Regions from separate parts of the Homo sapiens genome. Here region 1 is linked to region 2. Evidence: fine-mapped expression QTL. Tissue or cell type: breast. Region 2 holds a variant in brackets; the other region holds the start of a gene. All regions are shown on one strand. Distances are from middle to middle. Region 1 holds the start of LINC02893 (long intergenic non-protein coding RNA 2893). Region 2 has its middle 16 kb from the start of GOLM1.

Region 1 (11,798 bases), 930 kb before region 2:
GTCATCATTGATAGGATTAGATTTAGATCTATCATTATATTTGTTTTTATGTCCTATATATTCTTTTTTTCCTCTCAAAGTCTTTTTTGCCTTCTTTTGGATTAATGGAATATTTATCTTTTTAGTGGTTGCTCTAAGTTTTACAATTTATATCTTTAATATATTACTTCTTACCTTCAAAAGTATTATAGAATCTCAAGTATAGTCTGAGAGTCTCCTAATTGAGTACTTCCAGGTTTAACCTCCTAGCATCTGTTCAATTTTTTACTACACATTTTATTCTTAATGCCTATGTATGTTCTAAATACCATAATACATGGTTATTATTTTTGCCTTAGATAATAAATTATTGTATAAAGGGATTAAAAGTAAGAAAATATTTCTTTATTATTTGCCCTCATTTTCAATCATTTTCAGCACTCTTCCTTTCTTTGTTTAGATTCATATTTGTATGAGGTATCATATTCCTTCTGTCTGAAAAACATTGCTTAACATTTCTTATAATTCAGGTTGCCAGAACTGATTTATCTTAGCTTTTGTTTGCTGAAAAAGTCTTTATTTCACCTTCATAGTCGAAAGATGTTATTGCTGGGTATAACATTCTGGGTTGAAAGTTTTTGTTTATTTTAGACATCTACGCATTGTCTTTCAGCTTGCATAATTTACAATATGAAGTCTATGGTGATTCTTTTTTTAATTTTTTTTTCTTTTATTATTATACTTTAAGTTTTAGGGTACATGTGCACATTGTGCGGGTTAGTTACATATGTATACATGTGCAATGCTGGTGCACTGCACCCATTAACTTGTCATCTAGCATTAGGTATATCTCCCAATGCTATCCTTCCCCCCTCCCCCACAACAGTCCCCAGAGTGTGATGTTCCCCTTCCTGTGTCCATGTGATCTCATTGTTCAATTCTCACCTATGAGTGAGAACATGCGGTGTTTGGTTTTTTGTTCTTGCGATAGTTTACTGAGAATGATGATTTCCAATTTCATCCATGTCCCTACAAAGGACATGAACTCATCATTTTTTATGGCTGCATAGTATTCCATGGTGTATATGTGCCACATTTTCTTAATCCAGTCTATCATTGTTGGACATTTGGGTTGGTTCCAAGTCTTTGCTATTGTGAATAATGCCGCAATAAACATACATGTGCATGTGTCTTTACAGCAGCATGATTTATAGTCCTTTGGGTATATACCCAGTAATGGGATGGCTGGGTCAAATGGTATTTCTAGTTCTAGATCCCTGAGGAATCACCACACTGACTTCCACAATGGTTGAACTAGTTTACAGTCCCACCAACAGTGTAAAAGTGTTCCTATTTCTCCACCTCCTCTCCAGCACCTGTTGTTTCCTGACTTTTTAATGATTGCCATTCTAACTGGTGTGAGATGGTATCTCATTGTGGTTTTGATTTGCATTTCTCTGATGGCCAGTGATGATGAGCATTTTTTCATGTGTTTTTTGGCTGCATAAATGTCTTCTTTTGAGAAGTGTCTGTTCATGTCCTTCGCCCACTCTTTGATGGGGTTGTTTGTTTTTTTCTTGTAAATTTGTTTGAGTTCATTGTAGTTTCTGGATATTAGCCCTTTGTCAGATGAGTAGGTTGTGAAAGTTTTCTCCCATTTTGTAGGTTGCCTGTTCACTCTGATGGTAGTTTCTTTTGCTGTGCAGAAGCTCTTTAGTTTAATTAGATCCCATTTGTCAATTTTGTCTTCTGTTGCCATTGCTTTTGGTGTTTTAGACACGAAGTCCTTGCCCATGCCTATGTCCTGAATGGTAATGCCTAGGTTTTCTTCTAGGGTTTTTATGGTTTTAGGTCTAACATTTAAGTCTTTAATCCATCTTGAATTGATTTTTATATAAGGTGTAAGGAAGGGATCCAGTTTCAGCTTTCTACATATGGGTAGCCAATTTTCCCAGCACCATTTATTAAATAGGGCATCCTTTCCCTATTGCTTGTTTTTGTCAGGTTTGTGAAAGATCAGATAGTTGTAGATATGCGGCGTTATTTCTGAGGGCTCTGTTCTGTTCCATTGATCTATATCTCTGTTTTGGTACCAGTACCATGCTGTTTTGGTTACTGTAGCCTTGTAGTATAGTTTGAAGTCAGGTAGTGTGATGCCTCCAGCTTTGTTCTTTTGGCTTAGGATTGACTTGGCGATGCGGGCTCTTTTTTGGTTCCATATGAACTTTAAAGTAGTTTTTTCCAATTGTGTGAAGAAAGTCATTGGTAGCTTGATGGGGATGGCATTGAATATGTAAATTACCTTGGGCAGTATGGCCATTTTCACGATATTGATTCTTCCTACCCATGAGCATGGAATGTTCTTCCATTTGTTTGTATCCTCTTTTATTTTGTTGAGCAGTGGTTTGTAGTTCTCCTTGAAGAGGTCCTTTACATCCCTTGTAAGTTGGATTCCTAGGTATTTTATTCTCTTTGAAGCAATTGTGAATGGGAGTTCACTCATGATTTGGCTCTCTGTTTGTCTGTTATTGGTGTATAAGAATACTTGTGATTTTTGTACATTGATTTTGTATCCTGAGACTTTGCTGAAGTTGCTTATCAGCTTAAGGAGATTTTGGGCTGAGACAATGGGGTTTTCTAGATATACAATCATGTCGCCTGCAAACAGGGACAATTTGACTTCCTCTTTTCCTAATTGAATACCCTTTATTTCCTTCTCCTGCCTAATTGCCCGGCCAGAACTTCCAACACTATGTTGAATAGGAGTGGTGAGAGAGGGCATCCCTGTCTTGTGCCAGTTTTCAAAGGGAATGCTTCCAGTTTTTGCCCATTCAGTATGATATTGGCTGTGGGTTTGTCACAGATAGCTCTTATTATTTTGAAATATGTCCCATCAATACCTAATTTATTGAGAGTTTTTAGCATGAAGGGTTGTTGAATTTTGTCAAAGGCCTTTTCTGCATCTATTGAGATAATCATGTGATTTTTGTCTTTGGCTCTGTTTATATGCTGGATTACATTTATTGATTTGTGTATATTGAACCAGCCTTGAATCCCAGGGATGAAGCCCACTTGATCATGGTGGATAAGCTTTTTGATGTGCTGCTGGATTCGGTTTGCCAGTATTTTACTGAGGATTTTTGCATCAATGTTCATCAAGGATATTGGTCTAAAATTCTCTTTTTTGGTTGTGTGTCTGCCTGGCTTTGGTATCAGAATGATGCTGGCCTCATAAAATGAGTTAGGGAGTATTCCCTCTTTTTCTATTGATTGGAATAGTTTCAGAAGGAATGGTACCAGTTCCTCCTTGTACTTCTGGTAGAATTCAGCTGTGAATCCATCTGGTCCTGGACTCTTTTTGGTTGGTAAGCTATTGATTATTGCCACAATTTCAGATCCTGTTATTGGTCTATTCAGAGATTCAACTTCTTTCTGGTTTAGTCTTGGGAGAGTGTATGTGTCGAGGAATTTATCCATTTCTTCTAGATTTTCTAGTTTATTTGCGTAGAGGTGCTTGTAGTATTCTCTGATGGTAGTTTGTATTTCTGTGGGATCGGTGGTGATATCCCCTTTATCATTTTTTATTGCGTCTATTTGATTCTTCTCTCTTTTTTTCTTTATTAGTCTTGCTAGCGGTGTATCTATTTTGTTGATCCTTTCAAAAAACCAGCTCCTGGATTCATTAATTTTTTGAAGGGTTTTTTGTATCTCTATTTCCTTCAGTTCTGCTCTGATTTTAGTTATTTCTTGCCTTCTGCTAGCTTTTGAATGTGTTTGCTCTTGCTTTTCTAGTTCTTTTAATTGTGACGTTAGGGTGTCAATTTTGGATCTTTCCTGCTTTCTCTTGTGGGCATTTAGTGCTATAAATTTCCCTCTACACACTGCTTTGAATGTGTCCCAGAGATTCTGGTATGTTGTGTCTTTGTTCTCATTGGTTTCAAAGAACATATTTATTTCTGCCTTCATTTCGTTATGTACCCAGTAGTCATTCAGGAGCAGGTTGTTCAGTTTCCATGTAGTTGAGCAGTTTTGAGTGAGATTCTTAATCCTGAGTTCTAGTTTGATTGCACTGTGGTCTGAGAGATAGTTTGTTATAATTTCTGTTCTTTTACATTTGCTGAGGAGAGCTTTACTTCCAAGTATGTGGTCAATTTTGGAATAGGTGCGGTGTGGTGCTGAAAAAAATGTATATTCTGTTGATTTGGGGTGGAGAGTTCTGTAGATGTCTATTAGGACAGCTTGGTGCAGGGCTGAGTGCAATTCCTGGGTATCCTTGTTGACTTTCTGTCTCGTTGATCTGTCTAATGTTGACAGTGGGGTGTTAAAGTCTCCCATTATTAATGTGTGGGAGTCTAAGTCTCTTTGTAGGTCACTCAGGACTTGCTTTATGAATCTGGGTGCTCCTGTGTTGGGTGCATATATATTTAGTATAGTTAGCTCTTCTTGTTGAATTGATCCCTTTACCATTATGTAATGGCCTTCTTTGTCTCTTTTGATCTTTGTTGGTTTAAAGTCTGTTTTATCAGAGACTAGGATTGCAACCCCTGCCTTTTTTTGTTTTCCATTTGCTTGGTAGATTTTCCTCCACCCTTTTATTTTGAGCCTATGTGTGTCTCTGCACGTGAGATGGGTTTCCTGAATACAGCACACTGATGGGTTTTGACTCTTTATCCAATTTGCCAGTCTGTGTCTTTTAATTGGAGCATTTAGTCCATTTACATTTAAAGTTAATATTGTTATGTGTGAATTTGATTCTGTCATTATGATGTTAGCTGGTTATTTTGCTCGTTAGTTGATGCAGTTTCTTCCTAGTCTCGATGGTCTTTACATTTTGGCATGATTTTGCAGCAGCTGGTACCGGTTGTTCCTTTCCATGTTTAGCGCTTCCTTCAGGAGCTCTTTTAGGGCAGGCCTGGTGGTGACAAAATCTCTCAGCATTTGCTTGTCTGTAAAGTATTTTATTTCTCCTTCTCTTATGAAGCTTAGTTTGGCTGGATATGAAATTCTGGGTTGAAAATTGTTTTCTTTAAGAATGTTGAATATCGGCCCCCACTCTCTTCTGGCTTGTAGGGTTTCTGGCGAAAGATCCGCTGTTAGTCTGATGGGCTTCCCTTTGAGGGTAACCCGACCTTTCTCTCTGGCTGCCCTTAACATTTTTTCCTTCATTTCAACTTTGGTGAATCTGACAATTATGTGTCTTGGAGTTGCTCTTCTAGAGGAGTATCTTTGTGGCGTTCTCTGTATTTCCTGAATCTGAACGTTGGCCTGCCTTGCTAGATTGGGGAAGTTCTCCTGGATAATATCCTGCAGAGTGTTTTCCAACTTGGTTCCATTCTCCCCATCACTTTCAGGTACACCAATCAGACGTAGATTTGGTCTTTTCACATAGTCCCATATTTCTTGGAGGCTTTGCTCATTTCTTTTCATTCTTTTTTCTCTAAACTTCCCTTCTTGCTTCATTTCATTCATTTCATCTCCCATCGCTGATACCCTTTCTTCCAGTTGATCGTATCGGCTCCTGAGGCTTCTGCATTCTTCACGTAGTTCTCGAGCCTTGGTTTTCAGCTCCATCAGCTCCTTTAAGCACTTCTCTGTATTGGTTATTCTAGTTATACATTCTTCTAAATTTTTTTCAAAGTTTTCAACTTCTTTGCCTTTGGTTTGAATGTCCTCCCGTAGCTCAGAGTAATTTGATCGTCTGAAGCCTTCTTCTCTCAGCTCGTCAAAGTCATTCTCCGTCCAGCTTTGTTCCATTGCTGGTGAGGAACTGCGTTCCTTTGGAGGAGGAGAGGTGCTCTGCTTTTTAGAGTTTCCAGTTTTTCTGTTCTGTTTTTTCCCCATCTTTGTGGTTTTATCTACTTTTGGTCTTTGATGATGGTGATGTACAGATGGGTTTTTGGTGTGGATGTCTTTTCTGTTTGTTAGTTTTCCTTCTAACAGACAGTACCCTCAGCTGCGGGTCTGTGGGAGTACCCTGCCATGTGAGGTGTCAGTGTGCCCCTGTTGGGGGGTGCCTCCCAGTTAGGCTGCTCGGGGGTCAGGGGTCAGGCACCCACTTGAGGAGGCAGTCTGCCCCTTCTCAGATCTCCAGCTGCGTGCTGGGAGGACCACTGCTCTCTTCAAAGCTGTCAGACAGGGACATTTAAGTCTGCAGAGGTTACTGCTGTCTTTTTGTTTGTCTGTGCCCTGCCCCCAGAGGTGGAGCCTACAGAGGCAGGCAGGCCTCCTTGAGCTGTGGTGGGCTCCACCCAGTTCGAGCTTCCCGGCTGCTTTGTTTACCTAAGCAAGCCTGGGCAATGGCGGGCGCCCCTCCCCCAGCCTCGCTGCTGTCTTGCAGTTTGATCTCAGACTGCTGTGCTAGCAATCAGCGAGACTCCGTGGTTGTAGGACCCTCCGAGCCAGGTGCCGGATATAATCTCGTGGTGCGCCGTTTTTTAAGCCAGTCGGAAAAGCGCAGTATTCGGGTGGGAGTGGCCTGATTTTCCAGGTGTTGTCTGTCACCCCTTTCTCTGACTAGGAAAGGGAACTCCCTGACCCCTTGCTCTTCCCGAGTGAGGCAATGCCTCGCCCTGCTTCAGCTCGCGCACGGTGCGCGCACCCACTGACCTGCGCCCACTGTCTGGCACTCCCTAGTGAGATGAACCCGGTACCTCAGATGGAAATGCAGAAATCACCCGTCTTCTGCGTCGCTCACGCTGGGAGCTGTAGACCGGAGCTTATTCGGCCATCTTGGCTCCTCCGTTCCCTCTATGGTAATTCTTTTCTTTCTTCCTGTTGCGTTTCTCTGGCTACCTTTAATATTTCCTTTTTATCTTTGATTTTCAGCAGTTTGATCCTGAAGTATACTTGCACTTCGTATCCTTTTTCTTTTTCCTCTTCCTTTCCTCTTCGTTTCTTCGTCTTTCATGTTTATAAAGTTCTTTTTTCCTGGGTTTGTTTCAGTTTGAATAATTTCTCTCAAACTATTTTCAAATTTACTGATGTTTGCCCTCTTGGCAACGTACAGTCTGTGCATGGGCCCTAGAAAAAAACTTTTTTTACAAAAAACTCTGATTTGTTTTTTAATTTCTAGTGTCTCAATTGAGACTGTAAAAAATGCTATTCATCTCTGCTGAAATACCTCATTTGTTTAATTAATGTTTCATTCAACCCTTTAAAATTATGCTCTCTTCCCTGATGGTAGAATGCTGTGGTTTTTGTTGTTGTTATTGTTTTCATCATTTTTTAAATCTTTTTCCACTCTAAACTAAACTTTGTAAGGACAAGGACTTGGTGTAATTCGCTGTCATATTCCAAATACTCATTACTGTAGTAATGCTTTAACAAATTGTAATTGAGTGAACAAACGAACACACTGCCATGTTTACTGCCATGGTTTAAAGTGTTGCCACTTCCTGATAAAATGTACATTAGTATCTGTTTCTGTCCTATATCTCAAAAAAATTACTAAACATAACGATTTATGCCTAAATAAGATAATCTAGGCTAAAACATTCAGACTCTAAAAATCGAAAGTGAATGCGTTAAATATGAGCTAGGAGCAGTAATGAATGATCAAAATGTTTTAGAAAAGCATAAATACCAAAGTTCCCTACTGCAATGAACAACCATAGTTTCTGGTCATTAGTTTTAAAGACTGGAATTCATTGGAAGGCAACTGATAGCTCATAGAACTGATAGGAAACTAGCAAATAGAAATTAAGGAATAGGTGAGAATGAGGCTGCTCTGGGAGTCCAAGGACCCAATCACTTTGTAAGAGGCCTGGTCAGACCAAGACACTGCTATTGACATAAGACTCCTGCATAAATAGACTCCACCACTGACTCCCTGGAAGCCACTGTCCCTAGCCGCTGATTGTTTTGGCTCATCCCTTTTGGTCTTCAGCAGTGGTAGGCAAAGTATAACAGCCACTATTGGTGGCCTGCCACTATTCCCTCCTCTCATTTCACTGCAAGCCTCCACACTTTCTATTGTCAGCACCTGCACCCCTTAGCCTGAGGGAGCCCTCAACCAAGGGTATTTGTATTAGTCAGGGCTATCCAGAGAAGCCAAACCAAAAGGCTGTGTGTGTGTGTGTGTGTGTGTGTATGTGAAGACAGAGACAGACAGAGAGAAGAGATATTTTAGTAAGTTGGTTCACAGGATTTCACAAATCCGAAATCTGTGGGGCAGGCTGGAGATCCAGGATAGAGCTGACATTTCAGCTTGAGCCTGGAAGCAGTCTGCAGGCAGTCAATTTCTCTTAAGTCCTTAGCAACTCACTGGGTAAAGCCCAGTGACATTATGGAGGGTAATCTGCTGTATTCAAAATCTAGTGATTTAAACATTAGTCATATCTAAAAATATACCTGCACAGCAATATCTAGACTGGTGTTTAACCAAACATGTGGGCACCATAGTCTAGTCAAGTTGACATGTAACATTAACCATCACAGTGTTAATGTTTAAGTTCCCCAGCTTCCTCATCCTTCTGGTGTGGAAACCCTGAGAGTTGTGTTATAGGCTGTTTCCCAGAGTTTCTCATAAGGATTAAGCTCCTGTTGCCTACAGTGATGACTCGCTTGATAATGCAGCATTTGTTGTTTTTTTCTCCTTTGCTGTTTTACTTTCCTGCCATTTTACCAGTGTCTTTTGGAGTCATTTTCAAAGTAAACTCCTTGCAAGTAACTTATTGTCTCTCAGTTTGCTTCTGAGATAATTCAAACAGAGATACAGAGCATAGAATTACCACAGCAGCACATACAATAAGGGATTTCTCCTAAAAAGAAAAAGGACATTTGGGATGCTGGACAATCAAAAAGTATTTTTCTACTTATAGCACAGGTGACATTTAGACATTGATCTCTACTGAAGTTTTCTTTCTGAATCCATCTTTTTTTGTTAGATCATTAATAAAAAAAATTTTTAAAGTTAGAGAAGTAATTGTCTTCTTAATCATAATAATAAACATTAGAGACACTCACTTATTAAAAGAATTTATAAGTGGCCAAAAGAATACTGACAATTTCATTGAAAACAAAAGTATAAAACAAAAAAAAGCCTGAATTTTGTACCAAAATTGTCATGTAGTATAATGATCTTAAGGGTAGAAGTTTTGTCTCTATGTATGTACTTATGTTTTCATTTATTAAGCAAGGCATAGCATTTAATCGTGGCTGGTGACTGTTTCTGTATTGCTGTTAAGTAATTACTTTCATGCAACTTATCAGAAAATTGGCTACTTTTTGACTCTCAAATATTTTATGAAGGTAGTGTAGTTAAATGTTTGATTTATGCAAAAAATGCAAAAACATCTACTATTATGTGTTTACTAATTAAGAGCATCTTGTTCTTAATATAACAGTTTTCTATAAGAATATTTCCTGCTCTTATAACCTGCTTTTATATCTTTGACAGCATTTTTGAGGTCATAAACTCTACTAAAATATTTTGAAAAAGAAATCCTATCTCAATATAATTGAGGTAGGATAATTATATAAATGAGGAGGCCATATACAGTATGAATTTTGTATTTAAAAGGCATATTAAATAAAATGAAGGGTGGCAGGTTGGTTATTTACTTTGAAAATGACTCCAAAAGACACTGGTAAAATATTGGGAAAGTAAAACAGCACAGGAGAAAAAAAAACAATAATGGTGAAATGTACCACAGTTTAAGTAGGAGTAATGTCTGAAGTGACAGAAATCATTGCCCTAAGTTTTCCAGGACAACCTGACAAAAAGAATGTTTGAAAGCAGAAATATCTGTCACAATATGTCTTATTTTTTATTCAAAATATGGATCTCATCACCCTATTTTCTGGTCTCATTGTTTTTAGATTTATCTGCACTCCTATTCCCAATATTCTTCATTGAACATATTCTCTTACTCTTGATTTATAGTTCATGATTAACTGGCCAAGTTTTATTGAGAGAATCCTCAGTCTGAATATCAATGCACTGGTTATAATTGCCACGCACTTACATTGATGCATCATTTATTTTGAAATAAAAGTTTTTAAAATGTGCTAATAGTCTTCTCTCCTAAACTGTGGAACCATGGTTTATAACTCTAAGGCCTTCCTTGTCACATAAATGTCAGTGTTTGTATTTGAACCTTTCACTTCTGAATGAGGTATATGGATAGGCTCTCTATGGCTGATTTGGATCTGTAGAAAACCTTGCAAAGCAAGTAAAGCTATTTGCCTTACAAATCAGGTCCTTCTTACATAGAAATAGTCTTAGGCAGTTGGCTCACCTTGTCATCTCTGACTGAGTTTTAGTAATAAGAAGGTTTTGAGCACATAACTATTCAGATGAATGAGAATTCTTAGTACATTATGGCTAGTAAGCAATCTCTTAGAAACCAACAATATTGTTGAAATTAGATGACAGTCTCTCTCAGCACAGAGGCCTAGTTACCTTCATTGGCAACTTCTTGGTAGGATGAAGCAGTTTGGGTGAAGTATGTCAAACCCATTCACTATAACCAGAGGGATTTTTCCATCAGTGTGATGTCATTACAGAATAAATAAATAGTAAAATTTTGAAAATGATTATTATTTGATGAGGCAATAAATAGCAGTCATTAAGGACAAAGGCTTTTTAAATAGGCCGATATGACGTTTACACCCCATCTAACCAACTAACTAAATAAGAAACGTACTGAGTCTCCATTCTCTCTGCTATAAAACAGCAACAATAATCACTTACCTCAGAGGGCTGTGTGAGTATTAAATAAGATAAAACATTGTGAGTGCTAGCTTAGCACCTGGCACATAGGACTGCTCAAATAAGCCCCAAAGGGTGCAGAGTGACTGTGTCACCGTATTGATTGCATAAAACAATTATATTCAAGGCTTGTTTTTCTTGTCTTTGCTATCAGCTCTTAACATATTATAGCTGTTCTATGTCTTGGAACGCAAAAAAATCATCAAAACACCAAGGTCTACTCTTAGAAATGTGATCACTTTTGTCAAGAAAAATGTATTTCAAAATTCTCTCCATCACTAGTTTCTAATTCTATCACTAAGGTGAGTGTGCGTACCCAGGGGATAGCAAGATGCTCCAACTGAATGAACAAAGAAATATGATTTTCTATGTCAATTTTCCCTCTTTTGTGTTTCACTTTTGTGTTAGTGCAGTAGGATGTATACAGAATTTATAAATAAATATGCACGTATGGGAGGGTACTGCTCTGAGTACACAACCTTTTGGAAACCATTGTTCTAGAACAGGAGCTGGCAAACTAAGGCCCATGGGTCAAATCTGGTCCGTTGCTTACTTTCAGAAATAAATAAAGTTTTATTGGAACCACAGCCATACCCATTTATTTACATATTTTCAAAGGTCACTTTTGCACTACAATGGCAGAGTTGAATAGTTGCAACAGTGACTGAATGGCCTGCACAGCCTAAAATAATTACTAACTGACACTTTAGAGAAAATGTTTGCCAAACCCTGTTCTAGAAAATGATTTGTATAGGAGGAGAATCATAATGCATACTGAGACCTGGTTTTTATACCTGTTCACACGAGTACTCAGACCCACCAGCCAACTTGGGAAGGTGGATGATGTTTCCCAGTTCCTTGCTACTCAGTGTGGTCCAAGGACTGGCAGCATTGGTGTCATCTGGAAGCCTGTTTGAAATATAGATTCTTTGGTCCCATGTCAGACCTATCAGAATCTGCTTTTGAACAAGACCTTCAAGACATATGTGTGTACATTAAAGTTTAAGAAATATCAGTCAAATTTATATAACTGTTAGGTGGCATGTTGGTGAAATACTTAGAAATGCCAAGGCACTATAAGTGGACCTTAGTTTTCTATTTCTCATTG
Region 2 (11,798 bases):
AAGCCGGGGAAATCTGGACACAGACATGCACAGAGGGAAAGCATGTGGACACACAGGGAGAAGACAGCCATCTCCAAGCCAAGGAGAGGCCTCAGGATAAACCAACCCTGCTTACACCTTGATCGTAGACTTCCAGCTTCCAGAACTCTGGGAAAATAAATTTCTGTTGTTTAAGTCACCCAGTCTGTAGTACTTTGTTATGGCAGCTCTAGTAAACTAATGGAAGTACATATTAATAAACAATTTATTAAAAGATAAAGCATGGGCTGGGCACGGTGGTCACGCCTGTAATCCCAGCACTTTGGGAGGACGAGGTCAGCAGATCACTTGAGGTCAGGAGTTTGAGACCAGCCTGGTCAACATGGCGAAATGCCGTCTCTACTAAAAATACAAAAAATTAGCCAGGCATGGTGGTGTGCACCTATAATCCCAGCTACTCAGGAGGCTGAGGTAGGAGAATCGCTTGAACCCGGGAGGCAGGGGTTACAGTGAACCGAGATCGCACCACTGCACTCCAGCCTGGGCGACACAGTGACTCTGTCTCAAAGAAAAAAAAAAGATGAAGCATGATTAAGTGACCTTTTAATTCTAAGAACATGATCTGTCATTTTTAAAAATGCAACATTGCATTGAAAATGAAAACTGTTCTTGGTTGTGTTTTATAAACAAAAAGAGTAAGTCACAAAGCAAGCTTTAGTTCCCAGGCTAGGCTTCACATTATATGACTTAAATTTCGATAAGTAGAATTTTTTGGTTTCCAGAGCATTGTTTCAAATTTCCCACTGAAGACATGTTATTCTCAAATTGGATGACTACAAACCTAATTTTAGCTCAAAATCTACAACAGGTACAGGCACTATTGAAATTGTCGAAGGAAATGAGCTGGGAGATTTCAACAGCATGTGCTTAGGAGGCACACAGGACAACACAGAGCACACAGTGACTGCTGGTGTGTTTATTAACCATTTCTTCTCATTCTCTGTATTCTTTTTTTTTTCCTTGTTTTTTGTTTTTGAGACAAGGTCTCACTCTGTCGCCCAGGCTGGAGTACAATGACATGGTTCACTGCAGCCTCAACTTCCCTGGGCTCAAGCGACCCTCCCACCTCAGCCTCCTGAGTAGCTGGCCTACAGGCACATTTTTGTATTTTTTGTAGAGATGAGGTTTTGCCATGTTGCCCAGGCTGGTCTCCAACTCCTGGGTTCAAGCATTCCTCCTGCCTTGGCCTCCCAAAATGCTGGGATTACAGGCATGAGCCACTGCGTCCAGCCTTATTTTCTGTACTTGTGATGCTCTGGCATTTGGGGGCCAGACTACTGACTAGGTAGAGTCCAACCCTCTCAGGATTGGATTGCTAGAGATAGCACATGACTCCCTTTTGATCTGAGTGTGCCTTTCTTCGTCTTTTTTTTTTTTTTTTTTTTTGAGACAGAGTCTTGCTCTGTCACCCAGGCTGGAGTGCAATGGCGCGGTCTCGGCTCACTGCAACCTCAGCCTTCTGGATTCAAGCGATTCTCCTGCCTCAGCCTCCCGAGTAGCTGGGACTACAGGTGCATGCCACCACACCCAGCTAATCTTTTGTATTTTTAGTACAGACAGGGTTTCATCGTGTTAGCCAGGATGGTCTCGATCTCCTGACCTCGTGATCCGCCCGCCTTGGCCTCCCAAAGTGCTGGAAATACAGGCATGAGCCACTGCGTACAAAAGTGTGTACTGCATATTGAAAGTGTGTATTGCATATGAAAGTGTGTATTGCATATGAAATTGTGTATTGCATATGAAAGTGTGCCTTTCGTATGCAAACCAACCAATCCAAAGCCAGTTACCCACCGACACCCCCACAACCTTCTCTATCTGGCTCTCACACTCTAGGTCACTATCCACCTACCCTAATCACCCCAGAGCCAGGTGCCAGGCAACCAGGGACAACCCCTGGGACCCAGAGCTCACTGTACTCAAACTAGACAATCCTAAATGTGCTTACCGTGCCTTGCATTGACTTTTCTGTGGAAACCACGCTAAAGACTATTGCCCAGGTTTTCCCCTTGCTCCCTCTGTCTCCTGACCAATCCTGTTGTTTCCCATGAGGCCCTGCAGTGCCTGGCCTGCCGCCTTCTGCGAGAACCAAGAGTCACAAACTGTCTTTCAATAGCAGTCATCCCCTGAACTGTTGGTCTCACTATACCTGAATATAAAGAAAATCTTGGGTACATTGTAAAACAGGAAGCCCACTCAGAGGGGTCTACGCAGGAGGCCTGTGGTCTCCTCTTAATCTGGATGGAACCACCTAGTCTGTAGGTTTCTACTCATCACGAGGCTCTTACCTCCACACTTCTTCCCCCAGGATGCCCCCCAAATTCCAAGTTAGATCTTCATTCCTTCAGTTTGAGCCTTTAGTTTCTTATTACGTGCAGTGCCCCTGGATGTAGACATGGCTATGCTTTCATCATTTATCCAACCCTTCCAGGATGTGACAGCAAACTACACAGGCACTGGGCTGAGAACTAGAGAGGGATGGAAGAGACGCCGCTGCTGCCATTGATAGACTTCCTTGTCTAATTTTTTAACTTATTTTGTCATTGATGATTAAGAAAGGGATTATGGGGATATGAACCTTGATTTTGACCTCATTTTTCCTTTCTTCCTTGTCTGTTTCTTTCTTACCTTTTAGTTTTTGGCTTCGTTGGTTATCACTATAGCTAATCCAGATAAAGAATTACAAGATTTCCTTAACTAGTTGGAAAACAACATTTCAATGATTACTTATCTCTAAATGATAATAATGCAAATTGTAAAAATGGTAAGGCTGGTTAAAACCAAACTCTTGGGATAAACAAGGAACCTGTGGAATAGGCTTCAAACTCCCATTTTTCTAAATGATTTCTACAAATACATTTATCTATTTTCCTTCCCTCCGCCCCTCCCTCCCTCTCTCCCTCCCTCCCTCTCTGTCTCTCTCTTTCTCTCTTTCTCTCTTTTTTTTCTGACATGGAGTGTTGCTCTGTTGCCCAGGCTGGAGTGCAGTGGTACTATCTCATCTCACTGTAACCTCTGCCTCCTGGGGGTTCAAGCAATTCTCCTGCCTCAGCCTCTCGAGTAGCTGTGATTACAGGTGCACGCTGCCATGTCCAGCTAATTCTTTTTTTTTTTTTTTGAGACGGAGTCTTGCTCTGTCGCCCAGGCTGGAGTGCAGTGGAGCGGTCTTGGCTCACTGCAAGCTCCGCCTCCAGGGCTCACACCATTCTCCTGCCTCAGCCTGCCGAGTAGCTGGGACTACAGGCACGTGCCACCACGCCCGGCTAATTTTTTGTATTTTCAGTAGAGACGTGGTTTCACCGTGTAAGCCAGGATGGTCTCAATCTCCTGACCTAGTGATCCACCCGCCTCGGCCTCCTGAAGTGCTGGGATTACAGGTGTGAGCCACCGCGCCTGGCCTAATTTTTTGTATTTTAGTAGAGACGGGGTTTTACTGTGTTGCCCAGGCTGGTCTTGAACTCCTGAGCTCAGGTAATCCACCTGCCTCAGCTTCCCAAATTGCTAGGATTGCAGGCGTGAGCCACCGCACCCACCCTGCAATTGCTATTTTTACATATTATCTCAGTGCTCTAAAATTATCCTAGCCTACATGCAAGAATGGGTAAAGGCCCCATAAACAAAAATGGAGTGAGTTCTGTTAGTTCTTTTGCTGTTTCGCTGCTACAATGGCCTCTTAGAATTACAGTCGCCTCATTTAACTAGGGCCCGATTTCATAATTTGAGGTCTTGGTGGATAAGAATCTTCAGGAGAAATACCTAATTTGAGCTGTGTTGATGTCTTCAAGCATGAGGACAGGCTTGAAAGAAAACAGGCTGTTCCTAACCTGCAGGAGAAGTGAATCATGTTAACCTGGGGCCTTGGAAATGCTCATTTTGGGAGCTGTCCTTCAGGAGGTCTCAATCACTGAAGGTCTTGCCTTTTGAGTTTTCTCATCTGAGAACGGCCTCAAAGGGACAGAGACGGTCTTGGGACTCTGCCTGGCAGCAGTCCATCTTCATCAGCCCCTTCCTACCTCCCCTCATCCCTCCCTCCTCTTCCTTCTTTACCCCACATAATTCCCTTGGCCCCTTGCCAGCCGTGCTGTCCATATGTGAACAATGCTCTACTTTGATGGAGGAAAAAAAGGGTCTTTAATTTTTTTTTTAATTATCATAAGTATTGGTACCTTGTGGCTCACGCCTGTAATCCCAGCACTTTGGGAGGCCGAGGCAGGTGGATCAGTTGAGGCCAGCAGTTTAAGACCAGCCTGGCCAACATGGTGAACCCCGTCTCTACTAAAATCACAAAAATCAGCCGGGCTTGGTGGCGTGCACCTGTGATCCTAGCTACTCGGGAGGCTGAGGCAGGAGAATCACTCGAACCCAGGAGGCGGAGGTTGCAGTAAGCTGAGATCGCACCACTGCACTTCACCCTAGGTGACAGAGCAAGACTCCATCTCCAAAAAGAAAGTATTAGTACCTTGATATTTTTTCTATCTCTAGAGGTTTGCTTACAAATACACATATCTATATTAGGGAGAGGACTACATAAACACTCAAAGAGATAAAACATTAATGATGCAACATCAGACATTCTTCAGGAAGGCAGTGAGGGTAGGATCCACCAGGCCCAGCCTCCCAAAACTGTCCCCTCTGCTCCCCCCAGCTCCTCCACGGGTTAGGCTGGCTCCACTCTTGTGTTCTTTCCATCCTTAATTCAAACTCCATGTCCCTCTTCTCTGACTGTTCCCAAATTTCAAACTGCATCCCTGATGGATCCTTTCTTGTAAGAAGGCTGCTCTTCCTGGGTAGCCTGAAAATCTTCCCCGGCTCATTACCATAGCAACGAGAGCACGCCGCTGAAATCTGCAGCACGGAGGGGCTGGCAGCGCAGCTCCCACACACTACGACTCAGATGGCAGCTTCCTCAGGCCACTAAAGGAGCAACCCTTTCTGAGCTCATAGATATTAAAAATAGAGAATGGTATCCCTTGATCAAATTACTGCGTGCCTCCAGATCACTTTCCTCTCCTATGTGTGACAGAAGTGAGTTTTTCTTTCATTGCGGAGGAAAATCTAGAGATGGTTCTGTCTAATCCCACCCAAAATGGCAGTGACTCAGTATACAGGTCGGGAGGACCCTCTATTCGGCAATCATCACCCCTCTAAGGGCTTAGAGCACCCTGCACCCGGGGTTGTGGAAAGCGGGGAGAAGTGAGCTGTTTGAGACCAAACACAATTTGGTGGCTGATACTGGCATGATCCTCCTTCGCAGTGCATGGGGCCTTTTGGCTGCAGAGGGAAGTAACCCATACTGAGAGGGAAAACAGAGGTTCTGTGGTTTTGGCGAGCACAGGGGCCACTCAGATGGTGACAAGGTGGGCCGCAGGCCCTGAGGAGGCCTTGACAAGACCTGTGTCCAGTCCTCTCCCTAACCCAGGGAATCCTTTCTAGAGTCACTGCAGCCTCCAACGCCGGGCTCGAGGGATCCTCCCACCCCAGTCTCCGGAGCAGCTGAGACTACAGGTGTGTGCCACCAAGCCCAGCTAATGTTTTGTAGGGGGGTGGGAGTGGTCTCGATTTTCCCGCTGGCTGGTCTTGATTAGAATTCTTTCAAGGCATTTCTTCCAAATCTTTTTTTTTTATACTTTAAGTTTTAGGGTACATGTGCACAAGGTGCAGGTTTGTTACATATGTATATATGTGCCATGTTGGTGTGCTGCACCCGTTAACTCGTCATTTACATTAGGTATATCTCCTAATGCTATCCCTCCCCGCTCCCCCCACCCCACAACAGGCCCTGGTGTGTTCCCCTTCCTGTGTCCAGGTGTTCTCATTGTTCAATTCCCACCTATGAGTGAGAACCTGCGGTGTTTGGTTTTGTGTCCTTGCAATAGTTTGCTGAGAATGATGATTTCCAGCTTCATTCATATCCCTACAAAGGACACGAACTCATCCTTTTTTATGGCTGCATAGTATTCCATGGTGTATATGTGCCACATTTTCTTAATCCAGTCTATCATTGAGGGACATTTAGGTTGGTTCCAAGTCTTTGCTATTGTGAATAGTGCCGCAATAAACATACATGTGCATTTGTCTTTATAGCAGCATGATTTATAATCCTTTGGGTATATACCCAGTAATGGGATGGCTGGTTCAAATGGTATTTCTAGTTCCAGATCCTTGAGGAATCGCCACACTGACTTCCACAATGGTTGAACTAGTTTACAGTCCCACCAACAGTGTAAAAGTGTTCCTATTTCTTCCAAATCTTTTTCTAACTGTATGCATCCCTCCATTTCCCCCTCACGCCTCTGGCACTGCGGCTTTTAAAATTCAAAGACCAATA[A/C]ATGAACCTGTTTTTCTTTCTGTTTTTCCCCTGTGCTATCCATGCCCTTATGCAATGCACACAGACTGCCTAGATCAGGGGCTTATTTGAAGCTACTTTTTGCAGGCTGGTGGAGTCTATAGGCCCCTTCATTTTAAATGCATAAAAATAAAAAGGAAACCAGTCATATTAAAAGACAAATTGCCAATATATTAAAAAAAAATGTGTGATATCGTAATATATGTGCTTCTTTATTAACACATTATTAATAAGGTTAAGTTTTTTATTTCAAATTGTTGACATGCATAAGTGTTATTTTGAAACATGTGCCACAAATCTAAAGTGCTATGAAAATACCTGTGTTTTCTATTGGTTGCAAAGTTATGAGTACTGTGAAAAAGGTCAGCTGCCTACGTTAAAATGGAAGGAAATGCTAAATTTCAGTTAGGTGTTATATCAAGAACTGTGAAGCGTCTGAGATTTTACCCTACCAGGAAGGGTAACAAATTAGCATGAGACAGTTTCAGGGATGCTGATAGAAGACATGAGACTCCTGGGTCAGACGTAAAAGACTGTTTGCTACAGCAACAGCAGTATCCAGAATATCAGCATTTGTGCTCGTTCTCTGAGCCCCATTTCTGGCAGGGTAATGCAAAGAGGGCTAGATGATCCCTGCACACATTGTGGGTTGCATTACATTATTTATGTTAACATGTAATGGATGTATCTCTTTTAAATAAATTAATATTTTAAATTTTTCTCAGTTTTTTTGTTTTTGTTTTTGTTTTTGTTTTTGTTTTGTTTTGTTTTGTTTTTGAGATGGTGTCTCTCTCTGTTGCTCAGGCTGGAGTGCAGTGGTGCAATCTTGGCTCACTGCAATCTCTTCCTCCTAGGTTCAAGCGATTCTCCTGCCCCAGCCTCCTGAGCAGCTGGGATTACAGGTGTGCGCCACCATGCCCAGTTAATTTTTGTATTTTTAGTAGAGATGGGGTTTCAACATGTTGGCCAGGCTGGTCTCGAACTCTTAACTTCAGGTGATCCGCCCACCTCAGCCTCCCAAAGTGCTAGGACTACAGGCATGAGCCACCGCACCCGGCCTCAGTTTTAATTCCTAAAATATTGATAGATTCACATGATCAAAAACTCTTTGGGCTCATCAATAATTTTTAAGTGTGTTCATTTTAAAATGTTGGTCCTGAGACTAAAAGCTTGAGATCATCTGGTTTAGATTGTTACATTGCATGGTTGGGAAGGTAGGCCAGGGGCAAAAAAATAAATAAAAAAATAAAAATAAATATGCTGGCTGGCAATGAAAAAGCATATTAGATAATAATAAAAAAATTTTTAAAGAAAGTGTTGGGTGAGGTGATACCTAGGGTGGCAACATTAGGATTCTGTGACATGGGAGGGTAAAACTCTTTTCAAGACTGAAGTCGAAGACACTTTAGTGGAAGGAAGCAACATGTTAGGAAGGAATGAATCCTTCCGGCAGCCTGGTGAATCCAAGGTTAAATTCTTCCCTATAATACGGTATCACTTTAGTCTCCACTAGACTCTCCTAGAAAGAGCAGAGGATCAAGGAAGAAATCAGAAAAACTGAGCATTTGTCCAAAAGAGACTGAAGTCAGCATTAACTGGCTACTTTATGGTTCTCTTCCCAACTCCACACCATTTCTCCATGGAAACTCAAGAGGAAGATGGGCTCTATTCCATAAAAGAAAGCAGCAGCATTCTCTGTACACATGCAAGTCACTGTCTCTCATCCTACACCACTGTAAACACCCAGGGTCTGGGTGTCTAAATAACTGAAGTCAGGGGTTTGCATCTTCAGGCTTACAGATCAATGCTGCATAATCATTAGCTAACAAACCCGTGGTGGTGGTGGCGGTGGTGGTTGGTGATGGTGGTGTCTATGCCTCCAAAGGCAGAAACTGAGTCTCCAGAAGGCTGAGGTGGTAGACAGGGGCAAAACCAGAAGTAGAGGCGCCCTAATGTAAAGACCAGAGTTTCCTCCTTTATGATTTTGCCTAGAATGAAAATGCAAGACGGGAGTGCATATAATTTAGACTTTTGGATGCTTGCCTTTCTCTATTTCCAGTCATAAACCCTTGACACATCGAACACAACTTTTTTTTTTTGACATGAAGTTTCACTCTTGTAGCCCAGGCTGGAGTGCAATGGCACGGTCTCGGCTCACTGCAACCTCTGCCTCCTGGGTTCAAGCGATTCTGTCTCAGCCTCCCAACTAGCTGAGATTACAGGCATGCACCACCATATGCTTGGTGCGTATTTTTAGTAGAGACAGGGTTTCTCCATGTTGGTCAGGCTGGTCTCGAACTCCTGACCTCAGGTGATCTGCCTGCCTCAGCCTCCCAAAATGCTGGGATTACAGGCGTGAGCCACTGCGCCTGGCCTAACACAACTTTTTTTTCCCCGCTTTGCTTTGGCTCCCTGATTCCCCCCATTTTTTTTGTTCTCATAGTGTGGTTTCTTTTAGAAATTCGATGTGAAAAACAAGGTGGGTGGTGGAAGATGCCCTTGGCAAAGAAAATAGCTACATCTCTTTCCATGCAACCTCCTCCTGCCCCCCACAATCTCCATCCTCCCCCTTGGCCCCTGATTCACTGTGTCCCTGACGTCTCTCCTTCTGACTGATTTCCACTCACTGCCCTCAGGAATGTGCTCGAAAACTAATTACCAAAGTATCAATGCCCTGCTGGCTGCTCTGGTTATCCATTGCTGCATAACAAACCATCACAATATCCAGTGGCTTCAAACAACAGTCATTTTCTTATCCTCCCTCTGGTTCTGAGTGCTGACTAGTGCAGCAGGCCCTTCTGGCTCAGGGTATCTGCTGCAGTTGCAGTCAGATGGAAAACTCAGTGGCAGGGGGTGGTGACTCCAGAGCTGACAGGTCTCCGTGTCTGGCAGGTGATGCTAGCTGTTGGCTGAGACCACAGTTGTGGTTCGTGGACAGACGACTACACGTGGCCTCTGCATGTGGCCTGGGCTCCCTTACAGCATGGTGTCTCCTCACAGCAACAGGAACCTCCCAAGAGATAGCCAGGAGGAGGCTGTGCTACCTTTTATGACCCAGCCTCGGCCTCAGATCTGTTGTAGTTCATCTGTTGGAGTAGTCATAAGCCCTCACCCAGATTCGTGACCCAGCCTCGGCCTCAGATCTGCCGTAGTCCATCTATTGGAGTAGTCATAAGCTCCCACCCAGATTCATGGGGAAGAGACACAGACTCCAGTCTCAATGGAAGGAGTGTCCAAGAGTTTTGGGGCCAAAGCAAGTCACAACTTTCCCCTTGCCCTCCTTAGTGAAGTCTGGACCATTGAAACTCCAGCTTTACTAAGATACTAGGGGCCAGGTGTGGTGGCTCACGCCTGTAATTCCAGCACCTTGGGAGGCTGGGGTGGGTGGATCACCTGAGGTCAGGAGTTCGAGACCAGCCTGGCCAACATGGTAAAACCCCATCTCTACTAAAAATACAAAAAAAAAATTAACCGGGCATGGTGGTGGGCACCTGTAATCCCAGCTACTTGCGAGGCTGAGGCAGGAGAATCACTTGAACCTGGGAGGCAAAGGTTGCACTGAGCCGAGATTGCACCATTGCACACCAGCCTGGGCAACAAGAGCTGAACTCCATCTCAAAAAAAAAAAAAAAGATACTAGGGCTTCACTTGCCATTAACCTGCCTCACTAAGAATGGCAGAGAATGGTAGCTGTCACAAAACATCTCTTCTTCCTTTCTTACTTAGGAAGTTTTTATCTGGGCACATTGCTTCCCACAATATGAGACTCTATTTCCCAGATGCCTTGCAGCTAAATGTGGACATGTGACTAAGTTCTGGAGAAGGAAAGTAATCAGAAATGTCATATGCAACTTCTGAGAGGTGGCCTTAAAGGAAGGGAAGAAGCTCTTTTTCCTTTCTGCTGAATGGAATATAGAAGTGACAGCTTCGGCCTCACCAGCCGTCTTGGATTACAAGGATGAGGGCCGTATCTGGAGCCATGGAGCAGTGGAACCTGAGTCCCTGTGGACTTTCAGACCTGCCCTTTCATCCCAAGACTGCCCACTAAAGACTTACTCTGTGAGAAGATAAAACTTTGCGGGCTTAAGTCACTATCATTTTTGGCTTCTTGTGGTGATGAGACAGCTGAGCTTAATCCTAAAATGGTATACAAACCAAAGCTCTTTGTCTTGGCTTTATGTCCTAAAGAGCAGAACCCTAAAAAGAAAAGAGATCTTCCCCAGATCCAGTTGAATATCCTTTTACTACTCACTAAAACATTAGATTCTCTCTTGTATCTGGTGTTTCTCAGTAAGTGTGCTACTCATATGAAGAGACAGAAGCATTTTTGTTGTTGTTGTTGTGCAGGACACTGAACTAAATCAATGGCAGGCTGGGCGTGGTGGCTCATGCCTGTAATCCCAGCACTTTGGGAGGCCAAGGTGGGTGGATCACCTGAGGTCAGGAGTTCAAGACCAGCCTGGCCAACACTGTGAAACCAACCCGTCTCTCCTAAAAATACAAAAATTAGCCAGGTGTGGTGGCACAGGCGTGTAATCCCAGCTACTAGGGAGGCTGAGGCAGGAGAATCACTTGAACCTGGGAGGTGGAGGTTGCACTGAGCCGAGATCGCACCATTGCACCATTGCACTCCAGCCTGGGTGACAGAGTCTCAAAAAAAAAAACTATAATAAATAAAAATAAATATGAAAATACTTTTTAAAAAATTAGCCAGGCATGTTGGTGTGCGCCCGTAGTCCCAGCTACTTGGGAGGCTGAAGCAGGAGAATTGCTTGAACCTGGGAGGTGGAGGTTGTAGTGAGCTGAGATCACACCACTGCACTCCAGCCTGGGCGATGGAGCAAGACTCTGTCTCATAAAAGGAAAAAAGAAAAGAAAAAAGGTCAATAGCACACATTCCCTCACCCTCATGCCCACAAATCACTGTTAAAACACAAAAGTCTGCACGGCGCAGTGGCCCACACCTGTAATCCCAGCACCTTGGGAGGCCGAGGCAGGTGGATCACCTGAGGTCAGAAGTTTGAGACCAGCCTGATCAACATGGTGAAACCCCATCTCTGCTAAAAATACAAAAATTAGCCAGGCATGGTGGCTGGCGCCTGTGATTCCAGCTACTCAGGAGGCTGAGGCAGGAAAATCGCTTGAACATGTGAGGTGGAGGTTGCCGTGAGCCAAGATTATGCCATTGCACTCCAGCCTGGGCGACAAGAGCAAAACTCTGTCTCAAAAAAAAAAGTCTCCCCAAATTTCCAAATGCTCTCTAGGTACACAATATCACCCTCAGTTGGAAACCACTGCTTTGTGTATGTGTGTGTGAGTGTGTATGTGTGTATTATACAATACTGGTCTGTTTTTAATTTTTTTTGATACATAATAAATGTACATTTTTCAGGGTACATGTGATAATTTAATACAT

The links.
Region 1: LINC02893 starts here. The variant in region 2 is fine-mapped to the expression of LINC02893 in breast (GTEx, PIP 0.95).

Annotation. Positions count from the first base shown.
Region 1 is chr9:87,036,804-87,048,601 of GRCh38, reverse strand. It overlaps LINC02893 (long intergenic non-protein coding RNA 2893), which reads left to right and starts at 6,476. Exons shown (of 2, transcript NR_027471.1): 1 at 6,476-6,731.
Region 2 is chr9:86,109,736-86,121,533 of GRCh38, reverse strand. No RefSeq gene overlaps it. Among named protein-coding and RNA genes, the nearest start is that of GOLM1, 16 kb to the right of the region's middle. The variant A/C (reference allele first, on the strand shown) is at 6,365.